Linked DNA regions of Homo sapiens: regions 2 and 3 are each linked to region 1. The links come from fine-mapping of genetic effects on gene expression. A gene starts in region 1. Each other region holds a variant in brackets. All regions are shown on one strand. Distances are from middle to middle.

What was found. PIP is the estimated chance that this variant, and not a neighbour inherited with it, causes the effect.
Region 2: its variant is the best candidate, but not a certain one, in a credible set for the expression of USP31 in esophagus muscle (GTEx, PIP 0.61).
Region 3: its variant is the best candidate, but not a certain one, in a credible set for the expression of USP31 in T cells (TOPMed, PIP 0.51).

The regions. Positions count from the first base shown.
Region 1 is chr16:23,144,846-23,153,028 of GRCh38, forward strand. It overlaps USP31 (ubiquitin specific peptidase 31), which reads right to left and starts at 4,607. Exons shown (of 16, transcript NM_020718.4): 1 at 3,793-4,607. The coding sequence starts at 4,425. RefSeq lists silencers at 3,748-3,977, 4,108-4,207, 4,308-4,357, 4,508-4,607 and an enhancer at 4,788-5,007.
Region 2 is chr16:23,282,461-23,290,643 of GRCh38, forward strand. It overlaps a transcript of SCNN1B not described here. Among named protein-coding and RNA genes, the nearest start is that of SCNN1B, 16 kb to the right of the region's middle. The variant C/T (reference allele first, on the strand shown) is at 4,744.
Region 3 is chr16:23,032,798-23,040,980 of GRCh38, forward strand. No RefSeq gene overlaps it. Among named protein-coding and RNA genes, the nearest start is that of USP31, 110 kb to the right of the region's middle. The variant T/C (reference allele first, on the strand shown) is at 3,568.

The DNA.
Region 1 (8,183 bases):
TTTTAAAAAGTAATCAATTTGCCAGAGTTACCTAACCGGGGGAATAAAAAGGGGAAAAGAATCTAATTATATCACTTCCTTGCTTAAAAATCACCTCTGGATTTTCAACTTGCAGAGGATGAAATCCAAACCAGCATAGCTCACGAAGCCCTTCACAGTGAGTTTCCAACACTCTTCTCCCAGGCTTCCTGCACCCCCACTGCTCTCTATGGTGCAGCCAGCCACTAAATGTCTATTCCCCAAAACCACACGCCCTTTCATGCAACTCCACCACTTCCTTGCCCTGCAAATTTCTATTCATCTTTCAGAACACTGCTCAGGAGCCACCTTTTTGGTAATGCTTTCCTTGTTCCTTGATGCCTGCTATACACAGGATGGTCCTTGAGCCAAAAGCACTGGCATCACCAGGGAGCTTGTTAGAAATGCAGAATCTTGGGCACCGCTCCAGCTCTACCGAATCTCAATTTCCTTTGTAGCAAGATCCCCAGGTGAATTATGTGCACACTGACGCATGAGAAGCGCTGTCTCAGGGAACTTCCTAGATCCTACTCGACTCAGCTCTTCATAGCTCCCTGGGAGGTAAACCCCTCCTTTACTCATCTCCTCTGTGAAGACAGGAAAACCCAAATGCCCACCCTCCAGCCTCCGTGACAGCCAATTGACATGGTTATAGCCAATGAAATATCAGCAGAAGCCTGCTGAGGGGGCTTCTGGAAGAATTTTTATTTCCCTAATGACTTCCTGCCGTCCTGGGTAGAATGCCAGGTGCAGTGGCTGCCATCACTGGACAACCATGAGGTGACAAACCTAAGAACAAAAAGCCAATGATAGCTAAAAAGACAACAGGTGGAAATACAGAAATGGTCTGAATCCTTGTTGGGCCCAACGAGCCACTGAACCATAGAACCATCCACCTCCGGAATCACTGTGTGTGCCAATTGCCAATTGCAACGTTTTCATTGCTTAAGGCACTATCATTAGGGATTTTCCTTTCTTGGGCTGAAGGCATTCCTAACTGATTAAGTAAGCCTTCAATAAATGGGAGGTGAATGAATGAATGTAGAGTGAAACCTACTAAAGGTTCAGGAGATTACTTTTAAAAAGCCAGGCCTCTAAGAATCTGTTCATGTCTGCCAAAGCATGCCTATAAATCAGTCTCTGTACTTCTAGAATTATTGACCCATTTCTGTTCACAGCTTAATGGATAAAAAAGTGAACACAAACTCATAAAAAGCAATGGAAATGTTCACATACAAAGATGCTGTAGAAACTGATTTTCACATTTTGGAAAAGAGGAGAAAACCAAACTTAAATACTAGGCTCTGACCTCGAAAAGTTTACAAATGCTGTGGCTACTTACAGGCAATTGTAAGCAAAGAGGGGCAGTGTGGGGTGGGGGGCGGGGGGTGGACCTACAGTAGTCAGTTCTCCTGATCATTCTCCCTTTCTAATTTTGAGATCTCAGCTGGGCACGGTGGCTCACGCCTGTAATCTCAGCACTTGGGGAGGCCGAGGCAGGTGGATCAAAAATTAACTGGGCATGTAGCGGGCGCCTGTAGTCCCAGCTACCTGGGAGGCTGAGACAGGAGAATTGCTTGATTGAACACAGGAGGCAGAGGTTGCAGTGGGCCGAGATCAGGCCACTGCCCTCCAGCCTGGGCGACAGAGTGAGACTCCATCTCAAAAATAATAATAATAATAATAATTTTGAGATCACTGACATAGATCTTTTTTTCCAGTCCCTATCTCAGTCAAGTACTTCCATTCAAATTGCCAAGATCAAACAGCAACGATTTTTTTCCAAGAAAAACAGCATTGAGCAGCATAAGATGTAAGTAAAAAGTATTAAACGGGGAGAGATGCACACTGGCCATGTAGTTCGTCAGCAAGAAAGCAGGACCTTAACAAAGCAGATCCTCAGCTAGATGACCTTTTCATATTTTAACAAAATCATCTCCTTTTACTTAAATGTTGTTATAAAGAAGCTTTATAGCACCAATGGGAAACCAGTACCTTTTGCCATGAATTGAAGACAAATGGAAACCCAATAAAAACATAACCTTATTAAATTCTAGCTACTGTTACCTGCCAATGCTTCTAGACTTGAAGCTTGTTCTGTTTAAAAAAAAAAAAAAAAATGGGTGGGGGGTGAACAAGAGGTATTAAAAACAGGCTAACATCAAGCTGAGACTTCGTCCTGGGCAAGATTAGGATAGGAAAAAAAAAAAGGAATTAACCTTCTCCCTGTGTGACTTCACGCTGTTTTTGTTTTGTTTTGTTTTTACAGATAGAGTTTCCTGTTGCCCAGGCTGGAGTGCAATGGCACGATCTCGGCTCACTGCAACGTCCGCCTCCCAGGTTCAAGCAATTCTCCTGCCTCAGCCTCCTGAGTAGCCAGGATAACAGGCATGAACCACCACGCCCGTCTAATTTTGTATTTTTAGTAGAGATGGGGTTTCTCCATGTTGGTCAGGCTGGTCTCGAACCCCCGGACCTCAGGTGATCCACCCGCCTTGGCCTCCCAAAGTGCTAGGATTACAGGCATGAGCCACTGCGCCCCGCCCGATTCCATGCTGTTTAATACCATATTCATGTCCCACCTGAAAGTATCCCTTACACAATCTCACATCATGTTCCCCTTCTGCTTAGAGTAACCGCCCAATTTCTTAGTGCATCCTAAATGGTCCCATACCATCCGGTCCCAGCCCACCACTCGGCTCTCAAATCTCACCCTCTCACTACACTTGCAGCCCCACCAGCAAACAGCAAAGGAGGGCTTGGCCAAGGGCCATACATACCCCCAGGGATGTATAGCTCACCCCTGTAATCCCAGCACTTTGGGAGGCCAAAGCGGGGAGAGTGGCTTGAGGACAAGAGTTCAAGACCAGTCTGGGCAACACAGCAAAACCCCCGTCTCTACAAAAGTGTTTTAAAAATAAAAAATAGGTAGGTATGGTGGTGTGTGTCTGTAGTCCCAGCTATTAAATACTCTGGAAGGTGAGGCGGGAGGATTGCTTGAGCCCAGGAGTTTGAGGCTATGTGAGCACTGCACTCCAGCCTGGGCAACAGAGCAAGACCCTGTCTCTAAAAATAAAATAAAAATAAAAAGTAGCCTGTCAGCACATCAATCACAGCAGCAGGTTTTTCTTTCTTCAAACCACTATCTGATATTATCTCGTTAACTTCTTCAAGTCTTTAATAACAAAAATAATAGCAGCAAATACACATGATATGGAAGTATTTTACTTATCAGGTTGAACCCTATAAAAGTGCCAATCTGTAAATAAAAAACGGTTAAATATGGGTAATTCCACAGTGTTCGATTTAATATATTAACTTGTTTGCAGCTCACAACCACCTTACAAAGTAGGTCCCCCAGATGAAGAAACTGTAAGAACAGAGAGGCTGCTTAACTTACCCGACGTCACATTGCTAGTAAGTGGCAGAACCAGGATTTGAACCCATGCTCAACACTCCCACCCCACAAAAATGCAAGTTCCATGAAGGCGGATAGTCTTGTTCATTGCAACGTCACTCCCATTGCCTATTATCACAGAGTATGGGCACGTATGTAGTAAGTTCTCAATAAATACATGTTTGAGTGAGTGAGTGAGTGAATAAATGAATGAATGAATGAATCTCCTTAAAATCACTGGTCGACTGCCCAGACCACTCGGAGCAACCAATGCAGAAGCCTGCCGGGCCAAGAGGAACCGAGGGAAGGAAGACCTGGGCGGGCAGGTGCCCCAGGGGCTCGGGGTGCAGTGGGGGCGCGGCGGCGCGCGGGCTCACCTTGAAGTCGCGGCTGTGCTGCGGGGTGTACTCCAGGGTCCAGAGGGCCCGCACCAGGTGCGCCAGCTGCTCAGTGACCTCGCCCTGGCCCTGCGCGCCGCGGCCCGCAGGCTGCTCCGGGTCAGGCGAGGGCTCGGGCCGCCCCGCCCGGTACTGGCCCAGCGCCAGGTACTCGGCGAAGAGCTCGGTGTTGCTGAGGCACTGCAGCGTGGCGTTCATGAAGCACGTGTTGCCGTGGTTGCGGAGCCCCGCCACGCCGGGCACCGGCTCGGCGGCGCAAGCGGGCGGCGCGGGAGAGGCGGGCGGCGGCGGGCACGGCGGCGGCGTGGGCGCGGCGGCCGGCCCGGGCGGGAAGCAGCTGCGGAGGCCGCCGCGGTCTGGGGCGGCGCCCTCAGAGCTAAGGTGCGAGAGCGTGGACAGCGTCTTGAGAACGCGGCTCATGAAGCTGCCCACCGAGCGTGCAGAGGAGGGCGAGGAGGGCGAGGAAGGCGCGGCCGGCCCGGACGCCCCGGGGCCCCCCGCGCCGCCGCCGCCAGCGCGGCCGCTCCGAAACAGCCGCTTGCTGAAGGAGCGCTTCTCCTTCCCGCTCGCCGCCGCCGGCGGCCCGGACCCAGGCGCCGTTACCTTGGACATGGCGGCGGCCGCAGACACTCATCACCGCGCCCGCCCGCCCGGCCCGCGGCCCCGCCACGGCCGCCGCCGCATCCCGCAGCGCCGCGCCTCACCGGGCCCGGGGGCTCGACGCCCCACACACCTCAAAGCGCAGCCGAGCCAGCGAGCGAGCGGCGGCCGGCGGGGCCAGCGGGCGCGCGCGCGGTCCGCCCAGCTGAGCCGCTCACGTGACGTGCCTCCCGGCGCCGCCCGCCCGGCGCTGAAGCCGCCTCGGCCGCCATGTTCACTGTGGGACGGTAGCTGCCTCTCCAGCCGGACGCGATGCCTGGAGGCTGCGGGCGCGGTCCTGCTGCGTGAAGCCCGAGGGAGGCCATGTCTAGTGTGGGCGCCGTCCCGGCTTGGAGGAAAAGGCTGGGCTCCCGTTGGATGGTGGATCCCCGGGGTGGGTCTCTGTCTTTGCTGGTCAGATGGCAGAGGCGGGAACGTGCAGGAATCAGGATGCTGTCAGTTACCAGACCGTGCAAGAGCTGGTGGACATGGCCCTGACAGGTCCTGGGCAAGTCAGCCCTGTCTGGCTCCCAAGGGACGTTGCAGATACCTACCCTCTGGGTGCCAGCGGAGCGCAGTCACAGACCCTGGCACGTCCCAGCGGGCTTTTCTTCCTGGCTGCACCTTGGAGTCCCAGCGAAACGCTGTTATCATAACTACTTTCCTTTTCATTCCAGCCTTTAAAACTCCTCCGGGCTCTCCCATCATTCATCATTCCATTCATTCATTCACTCACTCATTCATTCAGCAGTTACTGGGGATATTGCAAAGAATTAAACCTATTAAATTAGAATCAAATGTCATATCCCCAGCGGATTAAATTAGCACGGTTTCTACCTGCCCTCTTGCAGCTTACATTCCTACTGGGTGTTTACAATAGCTGTTGTGTTCCACACATTATGCCAAGCATGCAATATTTTCTTTAATCTTTAATTCACCGTCTTTGAGATTGGTACAGTTCTTATCTGATTCAAACCCAAGTTTTATTTACAACCCCTATACTTGACCTCTAAACCAAAGGTCACGAATCCACAAATATCACAGGTCACAAACCCACAAATGAGTGAAGAATCCTGGTGTTTGAATCATCATATTGACTTTCAAGTGACTTGGGTCTCAGTGTTGGGGGAAATATAAGGAATGATGGGGACTATAGCAGACTTCAAATTAACATCTTTCTAAAGAGGTGGCTGCCACTCAGCTCCAGCCAGTTGTTCCCATGTGAGAACAGGAGCTCAGCGTTACCAGATCATCTGATGTTTTAAGAGAAGGCAGAAATCCTATTTTTAAACGTTGGTTCCATTAAAAAAAAAATAGTGCAGGGAGCAAAAAATAGTACATCTTTGGGATGCCTTTAGTCCAAAATCAACTAGTATATGACCTCCTCTCTATAGGCTCCCCTCTGCTAAAAGGGCTAGTCTGAGTCCTGAGGCAGAAGAGAGAAATCAGAGAAGGGAGAGCCCTTCCTCCTTTTTAAAACATGAAGGCCACCTTACACCACGTTTCAAAGTAAATGGTTTTTACCTTTGACCTCCCTCCCCAATGTAAGTAGGGCTCTATGATGACATCTCCAGGGTGCTCTGCACTGTCCCTAATCGGCTCCACTCTCCTCTTAGTCAAAATTCTTATCTGGACACCAGGAAGAAAGCCATCTGATTATTCACACTAAAATGTGAATGCAATGGCCCTCAACTTCTGGGCAGTTTGATCTAGACTCGAGGGCCTTTGCTGGAGCCGTTCCCTCTCCCTTGAACCTTTCCTTAGCTAACTTAGAACCTTTCTACTTAGCTAACTTCCCCTCATCCTTAAAGTCCCACCTTAGATATCACCCCCTCCAGGAGATGTCCCTTCCACAGGCCCTCTTGGCACCTCTCATTCATGACACTGACTTGACCATATTGCAATTCAGTTTACAATCATCACCTTCACTAATATGTGGGCTTCAACCCAGTAGAGACCCATCTTACTCATTATTCGGTACCCAGTAAGGTAGCCATTATATAACAGGTTGATTATTTGGCAACTTTATACCTAAACAATGTCGTGTGTGTGTGTGTGTGTGTGTGTGTGTGTGTGTGTGTGTATGTGTGTGTGATGGAGTCTCACTCTAACAACCAGGCTGGAGTGCAGTGGCGGGATCTCAGCTCACCTGCAACCCCCATCTCCTGGGTTCAAGCAATTCTCCTGCCTCAGACTCCTGAGTAGCTGGGATTACAGGCACTTGCCAGCACACCTGGCTAATTTTTGTTTTTTGTTTTTTGTTTTGTTTTGTTTTGTGAGCAGCAGCAAGATTTATTGTGAAGAGCAAAAGAATAAAGCTTCCACAGCGTAGAAGGGGACCCGAGCGTGTTGCCCTAATTTTTGTATTTTTAGTAGAGACGGGGTTTCACCATGTTGGCCAGGCTGGTCTCGAACTCCTGACCTCAAGTGATCCACCTGTCTCAGCCTCCCGAAGTGCTGGGATTACAGGCATGAGGCACCGCGCCCGGCCTCTAAACAATATCTGAACTTCTTGGTGGGATACCTAAGAACTGCCTTCCCAGTCTGGGCCCCTCTCACTAAGCTTACAGGTCTTATAGGTCTCCACTGAGCCTCAAAGTTTGACACAGGCTTGAAAAAATTCCTCATTGGAATGTTCAGATGATCATTCTTAAAGACTCACCTTGAACATTCTGTAGTGAATCTTTCATTGTCCCTCTCTGTACCACCCCTTACCCCTAAGCTCGGGAAACGTAAATTAGAAACAACAGTGCAGTGAATATTATCATGACCTATACCTTGTCCATCATGTAGCTATCTCCTTAGGCTGAAACCTTGGATCAAAGGGTATGCGTATTCCATATATGACACCTATTGTCAAGCTGACCCCCAGAAAGGTTTTATCCTGTCAGCAACTAATGGGAAATGCACATTTCCCAATCCCAACATACTGTTGAGTTTTCCAGTCTTTTTCACATTGACAAGTTTGATGAACAAAAGATGGCATATTAATGCACTTTTTGTTTGTATGAGTAAGGTTGAACATCATGTGCCAGTCTCTCTGCTATCCAACATCTCAACCAACTTCCTGTCTGCAAGGGATACCAAATTAGGCAGGACCACTCAAGATCCCACTATGAAAACTGGGTAGGGTGGCAGGGAGCAGGTATTCCCCTTCCTACCCCTGGAAGCTAGAGCCCAGGAACATGACCTAAAAAAGACCACCGCCGGGTGCAGTGGCTCATGCCTGTAATCTCAGCACAGGCAGACAGAGACGGGAAGAGTTTGAGACCAGGCTGGGCAACATCACGAGATCCCGTCTCTAAAAAAATAAATAAATAAGCCTGGTGTGGTGGTGCACTTCTGTAGTCCCAGCTACTCAGGAGGCTGAGGCGGAAGGATTACTTGAGCCTAGGAGGTGGAGGCTGCAATGAGCTATGATCGTGCCACTGCCCTCCAGCCTGGGTGACAGAGCAAGACCAACTATATGTTCCTACCTAGACTTTGGCTCTAGAAGTATTGATACACGGTTCGTTGGAGATAATGCAGTGAATTAATGAATCTAGCAGCTATATATTTAGCAGTGTGGCAGTACGGTGGTGTACAGTGTGGGGGTGGTAGCAGCAAGTGTCCAGCTGCTACTCTAGTGGCAAGTTCTTACTGGTGTCTGTGTCCCTGGGTTTCTGCCCAAGCCTGTTTCTCTGGCTCTGTTCTTTCTGTGAGCTAACCTGATAGGTTTCCTGTAAATCCTT
Region 2 (8,183 bases), 140 kb after region 1:
ACAAAGCAAATAAGTACAGATAAAGAAAGGAATCTATGAATACTCCTCCTTGGTTTATGATGGGGTTACATCCTGATAAACCCATCATGAGTTGAAAATATCTTAATTGAGGTAGGAGGCATGACTCCATTCCAGATGTGGGGCTTGGACACTGGACCAAATTGAGAACTAGCTAAAACAGGGCCAGAGCAGAAGCAACTTTCCATAAGACACACCCACTAGTGTGCCATGTCAGTTTACTATTGCCATGGCAACGCCTGCCCCCTTCCATGGCAACAACCTGACAACCCAGAAGTTACCACCACTTTTTCTAGAAACATCTGCATAAACTGCCTCTTGATTTGTATGTAATTAAAAGTAGGTGTAAATACAAGTACAGCCCTGCCTCTGAGCTGCTTTTCTGGGCACACTGCCTATGAGGTAGCCCTGCTCTGCAAGAAACAGTCCTTCTGCTGCTGCTGTGTGCTGTGGCTTCAATATAAGTTGCTGTTTAACACTACCAGCTTGACCTTGAATTCTCTCCTGGACAAAGCCAAGAACCCTCCTAGGCTAAGCCCCAACTTGGGGGCTTGCCTATCCTGCATCAAGTTGAAATGCATTTGATATACCTGACCTACCAAACATCATAGCTTAGTCTAGCTCCCCTTAAGCTCAGAACACTTACGTTAAGCTGGGCACAGTGGCTCACGCCTGTAATCCCAGGACGTTGGGAGGCTGAGGCAGGTGGATCACTTGAGGTCAGGAGTTGAAGACCAGCCTGGCCAACATGGTGAAACCCCATCTCTACCAAAAAGACAAAAATTAGCCAGGTGCGGTGGCACATGCCTGTAGTCCCAGCTACTCGGGAGGCTGAGATATGAGGATCTCTTGAACTCGAGAGGCAGATGTTGCAGTGACCCAAGATCACGACACTGCACTCCAGCCTAGGCAACAGAGCAAGACTCCATCTCCAAAAATAAGAAGGACACTTACTTTAGCCTACAATTGGGCAAAATCATCTAACACCAAGCCTAATTTATAAGAAGGTGTTGAATGTCTTGTGTAATGTATTGAATATTGCACTGAAAGTGAAAAACAGAATGGTTGTATAGGTACTCCAGGTACAATTTCTACTGAATATATATGGCATTTGCACCATGGTAAAGTCAGAAAATCCTAAATTGAACCATTGTAAATCAGGGATTGTCTGCATTGTCCCTGAAAAACAAAACCATTGTAGGCAATTCAAATAGAGGAAATTTGATACAAGAAATTAATTACACAAATGATTCAACAGCTGAGAAGCCAAGCCGGAGATGGTGAAGCAATCCTGGACTCAGCAACATCAGGAAACTACTCTCACAGGTAGGGCTGGAGGGACACAGGGAGGATGTGGTGTTACCGATGCCCAGAGCTGGGTCATGCTCAGAACTTGGTCCACCTAGAAGGAGCTAGAACCACAGCAGGAGCTTCCCAGTGAGAAGCTAAACCATGGAGGAGGTGCAGCCTCTGTTGGGAAATGTTCTCTGAATTTGGGGAACGAAGGACCGCCCTGGCTCCTCCCCTTGTCCCACCATCCAATCTCCTGCCAGTGCCTCTTTTTGGCCCAATTTAGATAGAAGTCAATTGACCAGTTGGCAGTAGAGCTTGGGAAATGTACCTTGCATTAGAAATGTTAGGGATGGCCGAGTGCAGTGGCTCGCACCTGTAATCCCAACATTTGGGATGGCTGAGGTGGGCGGATCACCTGAGGTCAGGAGTTCAAGACCAGCCTGGCCAACATGGCGAAAACCTGTGCCTACTAAAAGTACAAAAATTAGCCAGGTATGGTGGCACGTGCCTATAATCCCAGCTACTCGGGAGGCTGAGGTAGAAGAATTGCTTGAACCCAGGAGGAGGAGATTGCAGTGAGCGGAGACAGTGCCACTGCACTCCAGCCTGGGCAACAGAGCAAGACTCCATCTCAAAAAAATAAATAAATAAAAATAAATTAAGAAAATAAATAAAATAAAATGGCAGAGCATGGATCTAAGATCAAACAGGTCAACAACCCACATGTTGGTCTTGTTAGAACTCCAGCACCTCACATAGTGTTTGGCACAACGAAGGCACTCCATAAATAGAAAGAAAGCTAGGAGGCAGAGGGAAGGGCAGACAAACACTAAAGTCTGTGCTCTTAACCCAGAGGGAGCAACCTCAGATGCCTACAGCAGTCAGACAGAGCATACAAAAGCATGGAGTGAACCAGTTCTAGGGAGAGGTGAGGACCATGTCAAACTGGAGAGCACACCCCATGTCTAAATGGGGCAGCCCTACTAAGTAACTTTCAGCCAATTTCTGCCAAGGAATGCAAGTTCAGTGTTGCCAGATCTGCTGACTTCTCAGGAGAAATAGAAAATCCTGATTTTCAAGTTCGATCTGCTACTTTTTAAATGTTGGCAAACAAATCAAATCCAAATGAGCCTGGGGCATCTTGTTGGGCTGGAAAGCAAAGAAGCTTATCAAAGACTATGCGAGTTCATGGTCCCATCAGAAGGACACAGAGGTAGCCTGGCAGGGCTCCCACTTGCTCAATTTGGACCATTTTTTAGTATCAAAAAGAAAGAATGAATAATCCTGGAACAGAAAAAACACATTAGTGGAGAAACTGGTAACATTTAAATAAAGTCTAGAGTTTGGTTAATAGTAATGTATGAACATTGGTTTCTCACTTTTGTCAAAGGTACCATATGGTCATGTTAGACGTTAAGAAGTTAAGACTCTCACTCTGTCACCCAGGCTGGAATGCCATGATGTGATCATTGCTCACTGCATCCTCAGTCTCCTGGGCTCAAGCTATCCTCTTGTCTCAGCCTCCCCAGTAGCTGGGACTACAGGTGTGCACCACCACACCCAGCTAATTTTTTATTTTTTGTAGAGGTAGGGCCTCGCTATGTTGTCCAGGCTGGTCTCAAACTCATGGCCTCAAGTGATCCTTCTGCCTCAGGCTCCCAAAGTGCTGAGATTACAGGCATGAACTAGTGCACCCAGCCTAAAAAAATATGTTTTAAAAAATAATAAATGGGCCAGGCATGGTGGCTTATATGTGTAATCCTAGCACTTGGGCAGGCCAAAGCAGGAGACTCACTTGAGCCCGGGAGTTGAAGAACAGCCTGGCCAACATAGCAAGACTCTATCTGTACAGAAAATTTTTAATTAGCAAGAGTAAAAAAACAATAATAATAAAAAAAAATAATAAAAAATACAATAATAGTCTGGGCACAGTGGCTCACGCCTATAATCCCAACACTTTGGGAGGCCAAGGCAGAAGGATCACTGGAGGTCAGGAGTTCAAGACCAGGCTGGGCAACATGGCGAAACTCCATCTCTACTAAAACCACGTGAATTAGCTGGGCATGGTAGTGCATGCCTATAATCCCAGCTACTTGGGAGGGTGAGGAATGAGAATCGCTTGAACCCAGGAGGCAGAAGTTGCAGTGAGCCAAGATCGAGCCACTGCACTCCAGCCTGGGCAACAGAGCGAGACACTGTCTTAAAATAATAAATACCATTGAATGAAACATATTAAATCTATTTTTAAAGATCAATGAATTCATAATGATATTTTAAAAGAGAAAGAGAAAACAGAAAAGGAGGAACTATTTGTCATCATTGGAGGCAGCTGTTGCATCAAGTCCTTACTCTAAAAATAGTAGTGATAACAAGGAAAGAATTTATTCTGCCCTAGTCAGTGAGGGAAAGAAGCTCTTCTTTAAGGAAGAATGCCTGCTCACAAATGTCAAAGGAATGAGAGCATTAGAACTTTGCAACTCCGAACAAAATGATTGACTCAGACAATGATCATCAATGGATGCTGAAACTGCAAGGTGAAAGGTTCAAGGGAGGCTGGATATTTAACCTCCGCCTCCTGGGTTCCTGTGATTCACAAGCAGCCAAGTCATCAGGCCATAGAGAACTTACTGGTTCTGAGAGAAGAAACGACTTCACAATGGAAGGATCTGGTTGTCACCACCTGAACCCATGAATCAATCTTAGCTTCGCTAATGAGACAGCCTTTCATTTTGAGCTTTCTGGTGTGATGCAAGAGCATACTTATAACACCACCCAGGAAGAATTCTTGCCGATAACGTGTAGCCAAAATCTGATCAAACCATAGATTTAGCTTCTAGTTTATAGGAAATACAGCAGACAGCAGGACAAATTAAATACACCTCAAGAAATCAATCAAACTCTAGAAGGTAGACCATTCTACCAGCAAGACAATGGTCCTAGTTGCTTCAACAGCTCAATGACCTGGAAAAAGGAGAGAGAACGGGAAGGGAAGCTAGTCTAGATTTAGAAAGACTTAAGAGATGGAATCAAGCCAGGAGCCTGATTACAAGTGGCTCACACATGTAATCCCAGCACTTTGGGAGGCTGAGGCAGGCTATTGCTTGAACCCAGGAGTTCAAGACCAGCCCTGGCAACACAGAAAGAGCCCGTCTCTATTAAAAGTAAATTTTATTTAGTTTTTTGTTGTTGTTGTTGTTGATGTTGTTGTTGTTGCTGTTGTTGTTGTTGCTGGGTTGTTTTTTTTTTTTTTGAGACAGAGTTTTGCTCTTGTCACCCAGGCTGGAGTACAATGGGGTGATCTCCACTCACTGCAACCTCCGCCTCCAGGGTTCAAGTGGTTCTCTTGCCTCAGCCTCCCAAGTAGCTGGAATTACAGGCACCTACCACCACGCCCGGCTAATTTTTATATTTTTAGTAGTGATGGGGTTTTGC[C/T]ATGTTAGCCAGGCTGATCTCAAACTCCTGACTTCAGGTAATCTGCCTGCCTCAGCCTCCCAAAGTGCTGGGATTACAGGCATGAGCCACCGTGCCCTGCCAAAAATTAATTTTTTTAAAAAAGAGAGAGATATGATAAAATGCAATTTGTGAACATTGACTGGGTCTCGGTTTAAACCAATGGTAAAAGACATTTTGAGGGTGACCGGGGAAATGCTAATATGAGGAATTACATGTTAATAAAGATCCTGTAATCCCAACACTTTGGGAGGCTGAGGTGGGGGGATCATTTGAGCCTAGGAGTTCAAGACCAGCCTGGGCAATAGAGCAAATCCCTGTCACTACAAACAGTAAAAAATAATACTACAAAAATTAGCCAGCCATGATAGCACGCACCTGTAGTCCCAGGGGGTGGCCTACAGATCCACCTCCTGGAGGATGAGGAAGGAGGATCACCTGAGCCCGGGGAGGTTGAGGCTCCAGTGAGCTATGATTATACCACCACAATCCAGCCTGAATGACAGAGTGACACTCAGTCTAAAAATAGAAAAGATCTGGGGTTCATTTTGTTTTGTGACATGATGGTATTGTAACTAAGTAGCGTTTCCTTTTTTTTTTTTTTAAGAGATGGGGTCTCGCTATGTAGCCCAGGCTGGTCTCCAAACTCCTGGGTTGAAGCAGTGACTCACACCTGTAATCCCAGCATTTTGGGAAGCCGAGGTAGGCTGATTGCTTGAGCCCAGGAGTTCAGGACTATCCTGGGCAACATGGTGAAACCCCATCTCTACAAAAAAAAAAAAAAATTAGCTGGGCATGGTGGTGTGTGCCTGTAGTCCCAGCTGCTTGGTGGGCTGAGGTGGAAGCATCACTTGAGCCCTGGTTGAGGCTGCAGTGAGCTGACATTGCGCCACTTTACTCCAGCCTGTGTGACAAAGTGAGACCCTGTCTAGACCCTGTCTCAAAAAACAAAAAAGTTGCAAAGTATGGATTTTTTTTTCTTCTTTTATTAGCTAGGATATATCTATAAAAGAAAACTGCCCCCGTATCAGTTATATGACTACCCTCAGATTCCATTTGTATAGGACAGCCAGAATACATTCTTGACTCTCTCCTTTTAATTACAAATTTTCAAAATAATAAGTCAGTTCCCTAGTGTATTAGCTGACTATTGCCACGTAGCAAATTACCACACTTAGTGGCTTAAAACATTACTCATTTATTACGTGACAGTTTCTGCCAGTCAGGAACCCCAGCAAGGCTTAGCTGTGAGCTCTGCTTTGTGGTCTCTCATGGTGCTGTGATCAAGGTGTCTGCTGGGGCCAGGTGCAGTGGCTCACACCTGTAAATCTCAGCACTTTGGGAGGCCAAGGTGGGAGGATTGCTTGAGCCCAGCAGTTTAAGACCAGCCTGAGCAACATGGCGAAACCCTGCCTCTACAAAAAATAATTGTAAAAAATGAGCCAGGTGTGGTGGTACCCACCTGTGGTCCCAGCTACTCAGGAAGCTGAGGTAGGAGGATTGCTTGAGATGGGGAGGTCAAGGCTCCAGTGAGCTCTGATCACACCACTGCACTCTAGCCTGGGTGATAGAGTGAATGTCTGCTAGGACTTGGGTCTCATTTAAAGGCTCGACTGGGGAAAGGTGGTTGTTAGCAGGATTCAGTTCCTCAAGAGTTGTTGGACTCGGGGCCTCAGTTCCTGTCTGGTTTTTGCCCGGAAGCCACTCTCAGTTTCTTGCCATGTGACCCTCCCAGCATAGTAACTTGCTTCATCAAAGGCAGCAAGGGAGGGTGCTAGCAAGACAGCAGTGAGCAACTTACATAGCCTAATCACAGAAATGACATCCCATCACCCTTGCCATCTTCGATGATTAGAAGCAAGCCACTAGATCAGCCTCCCCATACAGGGGTGTTGACACCAGCAGGCGGAATCACTGGGGGCACCTTAGAGCCTACCGGCCACACCTAGCACCCTTCGAAGATGACTGAGGAGTGTCACTCTGTTTCTTTAATATGGCTTGAGTCATAGAAGGATTATTCTGGCTCTGTGTGGAGACTCTAAACCAGTGGAGGCTGCGTGTGGTAGCTCATGCCTGTAATCCCAGTGCTTTGGGAGGCTAAGACAGGAGGATTGCATGAGGCCAGAAGCCTCAGACCAGCCTGGGCAATGTAGCAAGATCCCATCTCTACAAAATATTTTTAAAAATTAGCTGGGCATGGTGGTGTGTAGTCCTGGATACTCAGGAGGCTGAAGCTGGAGGATCGATTAAGCCCAGGAGTTTGAGGCTGCACTGAGCTGTGGTCACATCACTGCACTCTAGCCTTAGTGACAGCTTGAGACCCTATCTCAAAGAAAAAAAAAAAGAAATCCCTCCCCAACCTCAAATATAGAACCAGAGAGAAAGGATGGAATCAAATGGACCTACTGTAGGCATCCCCACAGCTTTACTGTTTACTACTCCAATATTTAACTTTTTTTTTTTTTTTTTTTTGAGGCAGAGTCTCACTCTGTCACTTAGGCTGGAGTGCAGTGGCACGATCTCGGCTCACTGCAACCTCTGCCTCTGGGATTCAAGCGATTCTCCTGCCTCAGCCTCCTGAGTAGCTGGGATTACAGGCATGCGCCACCACGCCTGGTTAATTTTTGTATTTTTAGTAGAGACGGGGTTTCACCATGTTGGCCAGGCTGGTCTCGAACTCCTGATCTCAAATGATCCACCCACCTCGGCCTCCCAAAGTGCTGGGATTACAGGCATGAGTCACTGCACCCGACCCAATATGTAACATTTCAATATGATCAAAACCTCACAAATGAAGTAAAAAGGCAAGAAACAGGCTGGGGGAAAACAACAGACAATGGATTTGACTTTTAGAACATGCACCCAGTAGAAATCTGCACGTCTCCGTTTTTTTCCCCTATAAAATGAGGCCGATAGTCTCTGTCTCACTGGGCTATTGTGAGGATTAAGAGAGTTAGTAGATAGAAAATGTTTAAGACGATGGCTGGCACAGTTAAGTGCTACCTAAGTGTAAGCACTTGCCACTTGCTGCTGCTACTATTATTGTTATTGAAATTATTATTAGCAACACTTATGTGATCAAACTCTAGGTTTTGTTTCTTTTGGAGTCAGGGTTTCACTCTGTCACCAGGCTGGAGTGCAGTGGCGCTGATCATGGCTCACTGCAGCCTCAACCTCCTGGGCTCAAGTGATTCTCCCACCTCAGCCTCCCGAGTAGCTGGGACTACACGTGTGCACCACCATGTCTAGCTACTTTTTCTGTTTGTTGTAGAGACCAGGTCTTGCTACGTTGCCCAGGCTGTTCTCAAACGCCTGGACTCAAGCAATCCTCTTGCCTTGGCATTCCAAGTGCCGGGATTACAGGCACGAGCCATAGCACCCCTCCTAAACTCTAGCTTTTAAGGCCCCATAACTGTTGACTT
Region 3 (8,183 bases), 110 kb before region 1:
CCTTGCTGCACCCTGTATTATACTCCTAGACATTTGTCAAGAGCCTACAATCTTCTATCGATCCTCTCTCACTGCATACATAAGGAATAAAACGACTGTGTGGATTCGGCTATTAGTTCAGCTACTGTAAAAGAGGGATGCAGAATAACAGTGGCTTTAAAGGTTAGAAATTAAGTTCTCTGTCATGAAAAGTCTGGACCAGCAGTCCGTGATTGGTGTGGTGGCTGCTACTTCCGTCTTGTCGCTCTGCCCATCTCACCAAGTGACTTCCTTCTTGTGACCCAAGATGGCTGCTTCAGGTCCTACCATCACATCTACATCCTGGCCAGGAGAAAAGGAAAAGAGGAAGTGAGGAGGGTATGCTGCTCTCCCTGTCAGGTCATAAGTCAGAAGATGCACGCAACATATGGACATAAAGATGGAAACAATAGATATGGGGGGATGCAAGAGTGGAGAGAGAGTGAGAGGGGCAAGGGTTGAAAAATTACCTATTGGGGCCAGGTGTGGTGGCTCATGCCTATAATCCCAGCACTTTGGGAGGCCAAAATGGGCTGATTGTTTGAATCCAGGAGTTTGAGACCAGCCTGGGCAACATGGCAAAACCCTGTCTCCACTAAAAGTACAAAAAATTAGCCAGGCATGGTGGCACACACCTGTAGACCCAGCTACCCAGAAGGCTGAGGTGGGAGAATCACTTTAGCCTGAGAGGTTGAGGCAGCAGTGAGCCAAGATCGCACCACTGCACTCCAGCCTGGGTCATTGGAGTAAGACCTTGTCTCAAAAAAAATAAAATTACCTATTGGGTACTATGCTCATTTCCTGGGTGACAAGTTCAATTGTATGCCAAAACTGGGCAACACACAACATATCTTTGTAACAAACCTGGACAAGTATCCCTGGAATCTAAAATAAAAGTTGAAAAAAATTAGAAAAACAAATAAAAAGATGTACCCACTGCTTATTCCCACATCCCACTGGTTAGAATTTAGATACATTGCTACATTCAGCTAGCTGCAAGAGAGTCAGGGAAATAGAGTCTTTAGCTGGGAGCCATGTGCCTTTCAGACCCACTGCAGGGGGATTTGGCTATCTGTCTCTGCATTAACCTTCAGAGTGTTACAGATGTTTGTGAATGACGGGTGTTTTCATGTCTTGTAAGATTTGGTGGTTGTCGTCTACTGGAACAACTTTTCACATATTTGCAATGAAGAGGGTATAAAAAAGAGCTTGGCAAGATGGGGGACTTTCTAAGGGAGGCAGCCTTCCTGAGTTCCAAAAATCCTTATAGGGTGGCATTTGCTTTGGTAAATCCCCAAGGTTCACAGTCCAGTTCTCAGCTGATTAGGCTGATATGTTGTCTATCCCCTCACAAAGTATTCACTTCTCTGAGGTGGACTCACATGAAACTGAGGCTGCTGTGTAAACTATAATTCCAAAGTATTTGTTTACAATGAGAAATATAATTGCTTACTCAATCCCAATGGTCAGCGTATTCTTGGCTATGGAGAAAACCACATGGGAAGGCAAATTATAATCAACAGTTTGCTTACTACAAATGAAACTAGCTTTGCATGGTGTCACATGCCTGTAATCCCAGCTATTCAGGAGGCTGAGACAGGAGGATCACTTTAGTCCAGGAGTTTGAGACCAGCCTGGGCAAAATAGCGAGACTCCATCTCAAAAATGAAATAAAACTGAACAAAATGAGCTTGATTAACCTCAAATATGGTGGCCACGATGAGTTTGGCCGGAACTCAGGGCCTCTGACTTCTTGTTCTGCTGCTGAAGATTACCATGGGTTCTCAAGGGAAAGGATGTTCTAGGCAAAATCATACTGTTTTTCTACCAAAAGGCATTTGTCCCAAATATAAACCTTACGCCCCATTCTAGGGACATGCCAAAGTCCTACTCCAAAGGAAGTGACTGCGAGTCTTCTTCCTTGGCTCCTTCCCCCTGTGTTTACTCCTTGATCTAGTGGAAGTACATGGCAATGCACTGTTCAAATCCCCCTTAGAGAGAAAACACACAGCCCAGCATCAAGGAGTGCAGATAACTGACAGCCTCCAACTGGCAGCAACTTCAGGATGCTCGGCTTGTGAACCAAGGCATAATCTTCTTGGGGTGGCCCCTGGCTAGTGACTGAGCAAGATGGAGTACTAGGACCTGGCCATTTCTGCCCAATGAGGACTTCTGTAATGGCCATCTGTATTAGTATATTCTCGTGCTGCTAATAAAGACATATCTGAGACTGGTAATTTATAAATAAAAGAGGTTTAATGCAATCACAGTTCCACGTGGCTGGGGAGGCCTCACAATCGTGGCAGAAGATGAAAGAAGAGAAAAGGGACTTTTTACATGGTGACAGTCAAGAGAGCTTGTGCAGGGGAATTCCCATTTATAAAACTATCAGATCTCATGAGATTTATTCACTACCACGAGAATAGTACGGGGGAAACCACCCCCATGATTCAATTATCTCAACCTGGCCCCACCCTTGATACTTTGAGATTATTACAATTCAAGTTGAGATTTGGGTGGGGACACAGCAAAACTATATCAGCATCCTTTGCTCCAGAGCTCCCTGCTAGGCTGGCAGAGACCTTGTGAGGTCTGCAATTTGGTTTTACAGCTCCTCCAGCACAACCCTGTCTCTTCTCATTTTCTTTTCACAAGTGTTACTCTCCTCAAAACTTTTTGCCCTCTAACTCCACTACAGCATTCTAAAGAGACCAGCCTGCAACAGTGCTCTAGATCAGAGATTGGTCAGCAAATCACAACTCATGGCCCAATCCTGGCTTATAACTTGTTTTCATAAATAAGCTTTTATCAGAACTCAACCATACCTGTTTGTTCATTTACTTATTGTCCATGGCTGCTTTTGCACTACAATGACAGGGTTGAGTAGTTGTGACAGATCAATCTAACATTTAAAATATTAGCTATCTGGCCCTTTACAGAAAAAATTGCATGAGTCAAAAGGTTTAAACCAATTTGGGTTGGGTTTTCCATTTTTCACAACACCAAAGACCTGGCTTAGATTAAGACTATCTCCAAACCATATCCTCATGACACACTGAGTAATCCAGAGAGGAGACTGGGATGCCTCAAGACAGGAAGAAAGATGTTGAGAGGGTTCCAGGAAGAGGTGACATGAGTTTGTTCTTCCATGTTCCAAAAGGCCTGGGCAGGAGTCCTGGCTGCAGGGACTCAGACCTCAGAGATGGATGGTATCTTCATCCCAAAGACCTCTCCTGTGATTGTGGTGCCCTGAGAAGGTATGTTCCCAATTGCAGTGAAGCAATGCCTTCATGAAACAGTCTGAAGTTATTTCCAAATCCTCAAAGCTGAGCAACTAGGGGAATTTTATTAGACATATTTATTCTATAATCCAGCATCTCTCAAGACATCCAGGGTTTTCTTTTAAGCTACTTCTCTTTCCTCCCAGACAGGATACTCGTGTGGCTACTCAGATATCAAGAATAAGATGAAAACATCCCTGTTGTGTTGGTTCAAGCCAGCTTAACTGACAGATTCCTCTCCTGCTTCCCTAGCCACTGGTAGATATGC[T/C]TGCCTTCTGCCTCCATCAGGTCTGTGCTAAATCCCTTTATCATGACTACATAAATGTTAGATTGAACAGAATGAGATTCTCAAATATGAAGGCTTATGCAAAAACATTACTTTTTTTTTTTGAGATATTTCGGTCCCTGAATGTGCTGGACAGGGGATGAAGTGAGACCCTTCTCCAGCAACATTTGGAGGAGGATGCAACTCAATCATCCTTGTGGCTGGGAGCCTTCATCTGCCATGGTCAAACAAACTTTAGATTTGCAAGGCCAAGGAAATGGTTGAAATGCAACATAAAACTGCACTATTTATATTTTCATTTCTATTAGACCTGTATAATGATGCCTTATTGAACTGAAGCTTAAATGGCTCAAGACTGATCGTAATAGAACATTTAATTGTTTGCTTGTCTAACTCTCTCAGCCCTAATTAAATATTGTTTTTCATTGAGTGGGTTATACAATGATGTTTCTTTGCTGTCACTGAAGAGAGAAGGGGACTGAGGCAGAATTTAGATGAGCCAGGCTCACTTTGTGCACTCCTCCTATTCTGTTTTTTGGTCCAACAATGGGAAGCAGAGCCCTCTGGGGGGAGACTTACCCTGATCCAGGGAACAGCTTTTGGAGATGATCTCATGCAAGTCCTCAGAGAGGAAGAGGAGTTATGAGAGATCATGTTATCTTGTGTGGTTTCCTATAGAAGGCACAGGTTCTTGATGTTCAAAGTTGGCATTGGCATCTTTCTAACTCCTCTTTCTCCCTAACACCCATCCCCACAGCACTGCCTTTGGTATCCCTGGAATCTAGCCACTTCTCATCACCTCTGTGCCATCATCCAGGGCCAAGCCACTATCACCTCTCATCTAGGTCATTGCAGAAGCCTCTTAACTGGCTGCCTGCACTTATCTGGGCTTTACCGCAGTCTGTTCCCAACCTATCAACCACTGGAAGGCCCTGTCCCTCCCCATCTCAGAACCTTTCTGTAGCTCCCAGCTCGCTCAGAAAAAAGCCAAGTTTCCATCTGACAATGCCCTCCATCCTGATATTACCTATGACTACAGCTCCAATGACACTGCCCTTCACTCATTCAGCTCCATCTAAACTGAGCTCTTTGCTGTTTTCTCGAATAGTCTTCACAATGCTTCCTCTTTAGGGCTTTTCATTTGTTGTTACCACTACCTATAATATGTCTCCCTCAGAAATCTGCACAGCTCACTCATTCACATTCTTTGTGCCTTTATTCGAATGTCACCTGTCAGGGAGGCCTCTAACTGCCCTATTTAAAATTGCAACCAACTCACCCTCTCTATCCTTCATCCATATTTTTCTCTATGGATCTTACTACTATTTGACATATATTTCAGTTGACCTATTTATTGCGTTTATTGTGTATCTCCCCTTCCAAAATGTGAGCCCTAGGAGGGCAAGGATTTTTCCCTCTTGCTTTCACTTCTGAATCCCCAGTGTCTAGAAAAACACCCAGAACAAAGTAGCTGCACAAATAAATATTTTTGAGCGAATGAATGAGTAAACAAATAAATGTAAACATGCACAAATGAATGAATAGTCTGTCATTTCTTTCTGGCCATGAATTCCAATGGTCAAGATCTACTCTAGGCCAGGAGCCTGGATGTATTTGTACCTTGCATTCTAGGATTCTGGGCATTCAAGAGGAAATCTTCCCATTGGAGATGGAGCTGCAAAGGGCAAACTGAGATCCAGAGCTCAGAATTGCCCCAGCCTTCCTGCTGCAAATGCTAATTCTTCTAAGACTAAGGCAAAATGGTGAAAGAGGTGGGAGCTTGAGCCTGAGCTCAGAAACAGGCTCTGATTTACAGCAAGAGAAGAGGCAAATTGACACAAGAAGCTTCTGTGGAGGCATCAGAGACCAGAGACAATTTAGTGAATGAATAAGGCATCACTGTAACCACCCATAGAGTCCATGGGTGCTGGGGATCCTGGGAATAATTTTATCTTTTAAAGCATGAGGACAACCCAGCAGAACTTTCTGGAAGAGGAAGAAGGAAGGGAAGTGGGATAGCCAAGACCGTCCCCCTTGTACTGGATCTACAGGATCATGGAGACCAAAACATGTGGCCCATTTGCAGGACCAGAATGATTGAGATGCATCCTCCTCTGAATGCTGTTGAAGAAGGATCCCACCTCATACCCTGTTCAGCAAGTTCAGGGGCCCAACATCCCACAAAAAAGTAATATTTTTGCATAAGCCTTCAAAAGCTCATTCAGTTCAATCCAACATTTATATATTCATCACATTTTCAAGGCATGCACGTTAGATATTTTGACAGGTGTGTCAAACCACTCACCAAAAACGTTGTGCCAAGGTATGCTGTCCTTTTCTCATGCCTTACACTGAATATCTGTGTTTCCTTTTGTGTCAGGGGGAATTAAACTTTCCAGAGATTTGTCTATTTTATTCATCACTTCAAAGTTCTGATTCTTGATTTGATTAATCACCTCCACCAACTTTTTGTTTTGTGATTAATGTTTGCTCTCATCTCTATTAATTGCTTCCTTTCACTTTACTTTTATTTTGCTGTTCATTTTCTACTTATTTTGAATTCTTAATTCAATTATTCTCAATAACCATATTTATTTTAATAATAACAGCTTTCAAATATGGATTTTGCTAAGAATAACTTTAGTCCCACCCCCTCATATGTATTTTTAGACAGTGGGTTTCATTGTCTTAAATGTCTAAATAGCCCACTCTTTCAGTATTGATTTCCACCTTGATAAAAGGTTACTTTTTACATTCTTTAATTTCCAAGTAGCTATCATTTGTCTTAATTTAGGCAAACTCTTGCTGTTAATGAGATCAGGAAATATAATTTATAAACTCGTAACTTGGAGAATTTGTTACGGACTTCTTTATAACCTGGTACACAGCATTGCAACAGTCAGGGTAGGTCAGGTTAGGCTGCAGTAACAAACGACCAAAAAAAATCTCAGTGGCTTCAATAACAAAGATTGGTCCCTGCTCATGCTACATGTTTCTGAGCAGTCAGCTGGGAGTTCTTCTTTTTAGAGTCACTCAGGGACTCAAGCCAATGGAAGTTCCATCTCGACATGTGCTTCTGTGATCACAGAGGTGGAGGAAAGAGAGCATGGCTCTTAAAGCCATTCCTGTGCACATTTCATTGACCAAAAAAATTCAAATGCCTACACTTAAGAGCATGGATGTCTTGTTCTGTAAAAGGAGAAGCACTGAATATTCCTGAATATTCTACCATATGCATTTAACAGATGTCTATAAAGAGCTATGGAGATACCTCCTGCTTATGCCAGGGACTGTCTGGCAGATATTGTTAGTTGGTGACCTGCCTTCCATTCCATTTCCAACCCTCTTTTTCCCATCTACTTTCCAGCCAGAAGTGACCATGACCCAAATATAAGTAGAAGGGGCAGGTGGCAGGGGTCTCAAAAAAGCGTTTTGCTTTTGCTTTTCTGCTATTGATGCTGCCCTGTCTCCCCTCTCCTCCTTCCTGCCTTGACTGCTAATGTGAAAAGGCCAAAGAATCCCAGAAATATTTGCTTTGACATTGTTGAGCATCTGAACTAAGGCCAAAGGTGCCTGCCTCCAGACTTCATATATGAAGAGAAAAAATAAAATTACCCAGGTGCAGTGGCTCATGCCTGTGATCCCAGCACTCTGGGAGGCCGAGGCAGGTGGATCACTTGAGGCCAGGAGTTCAAGACCAGCCTGGGAAGCATAGCAAGACACCATCTCTAAATTTTTTTTTTAATTAGCAAGGCACGGTGGTACAGGCCTGTAGTCCCAGCTGCTCAGGAGGCTGACGAGGGAGAATCACTTGGGCCCAGGAGTTTGAGGCTGCAATGAGCCAAGATTGCACCACTGCACTCCAGCCTGGGTGACAGAGCAAGAACCTGTCTCCAAACAAACAAACAAACAAACAAAAGACTCATATTTGTATAAGCCATTGTGGTTGAATTTCTTGTTACTTTCATCTGAATGCATTTCTGAGCGATTTCAGCATGTAAACAAGACAGACCGTTACCACCCTCAGTGACTAATAATCCTTTGGAAGTATTCTGTGAGCAACTGAAAAGGGTGCTAAATATGCATTTCTAAATACAGCCATACCTCAGAGATATCATGGGCTCAGTTCCAGGCAACCACAACAAAGCGAATATTGCAACAAAACAAGTCGCATGCTTTTTTTTTATTTCCCAGGGCATATAAAACTTATAATGGGCTGGACACAGTGGTTCACTCCTATAATCCCAACACTTTGGAAGCCAAGGCAGGAGGATTGCTTGAGGCCAGGAGTTCGAGACCAGCCTGGGCAACATACAAAGACCCTGTCTCTACAAAAAAAAAAAAAAAATGTAATTAGCCAAGCATAGTCACACATACCTGTAGTCCCAGCTACTCAGGAGACTGAGATGGGGGGTTCACTTGAGCCCAGAAGGTCAAGGCTGCAGTGAGCTGTGATCATGCCACTGCACTCCAGCCCCGGCAACAGAATGAGACTGTCTGAAACAGGCAAACAAACAACAACAACAACAAAGTTATATTTATATTATACTGTAGTCTATTAAGTGTGTGATAGCATTATGTCTTTTAAAAATATACAT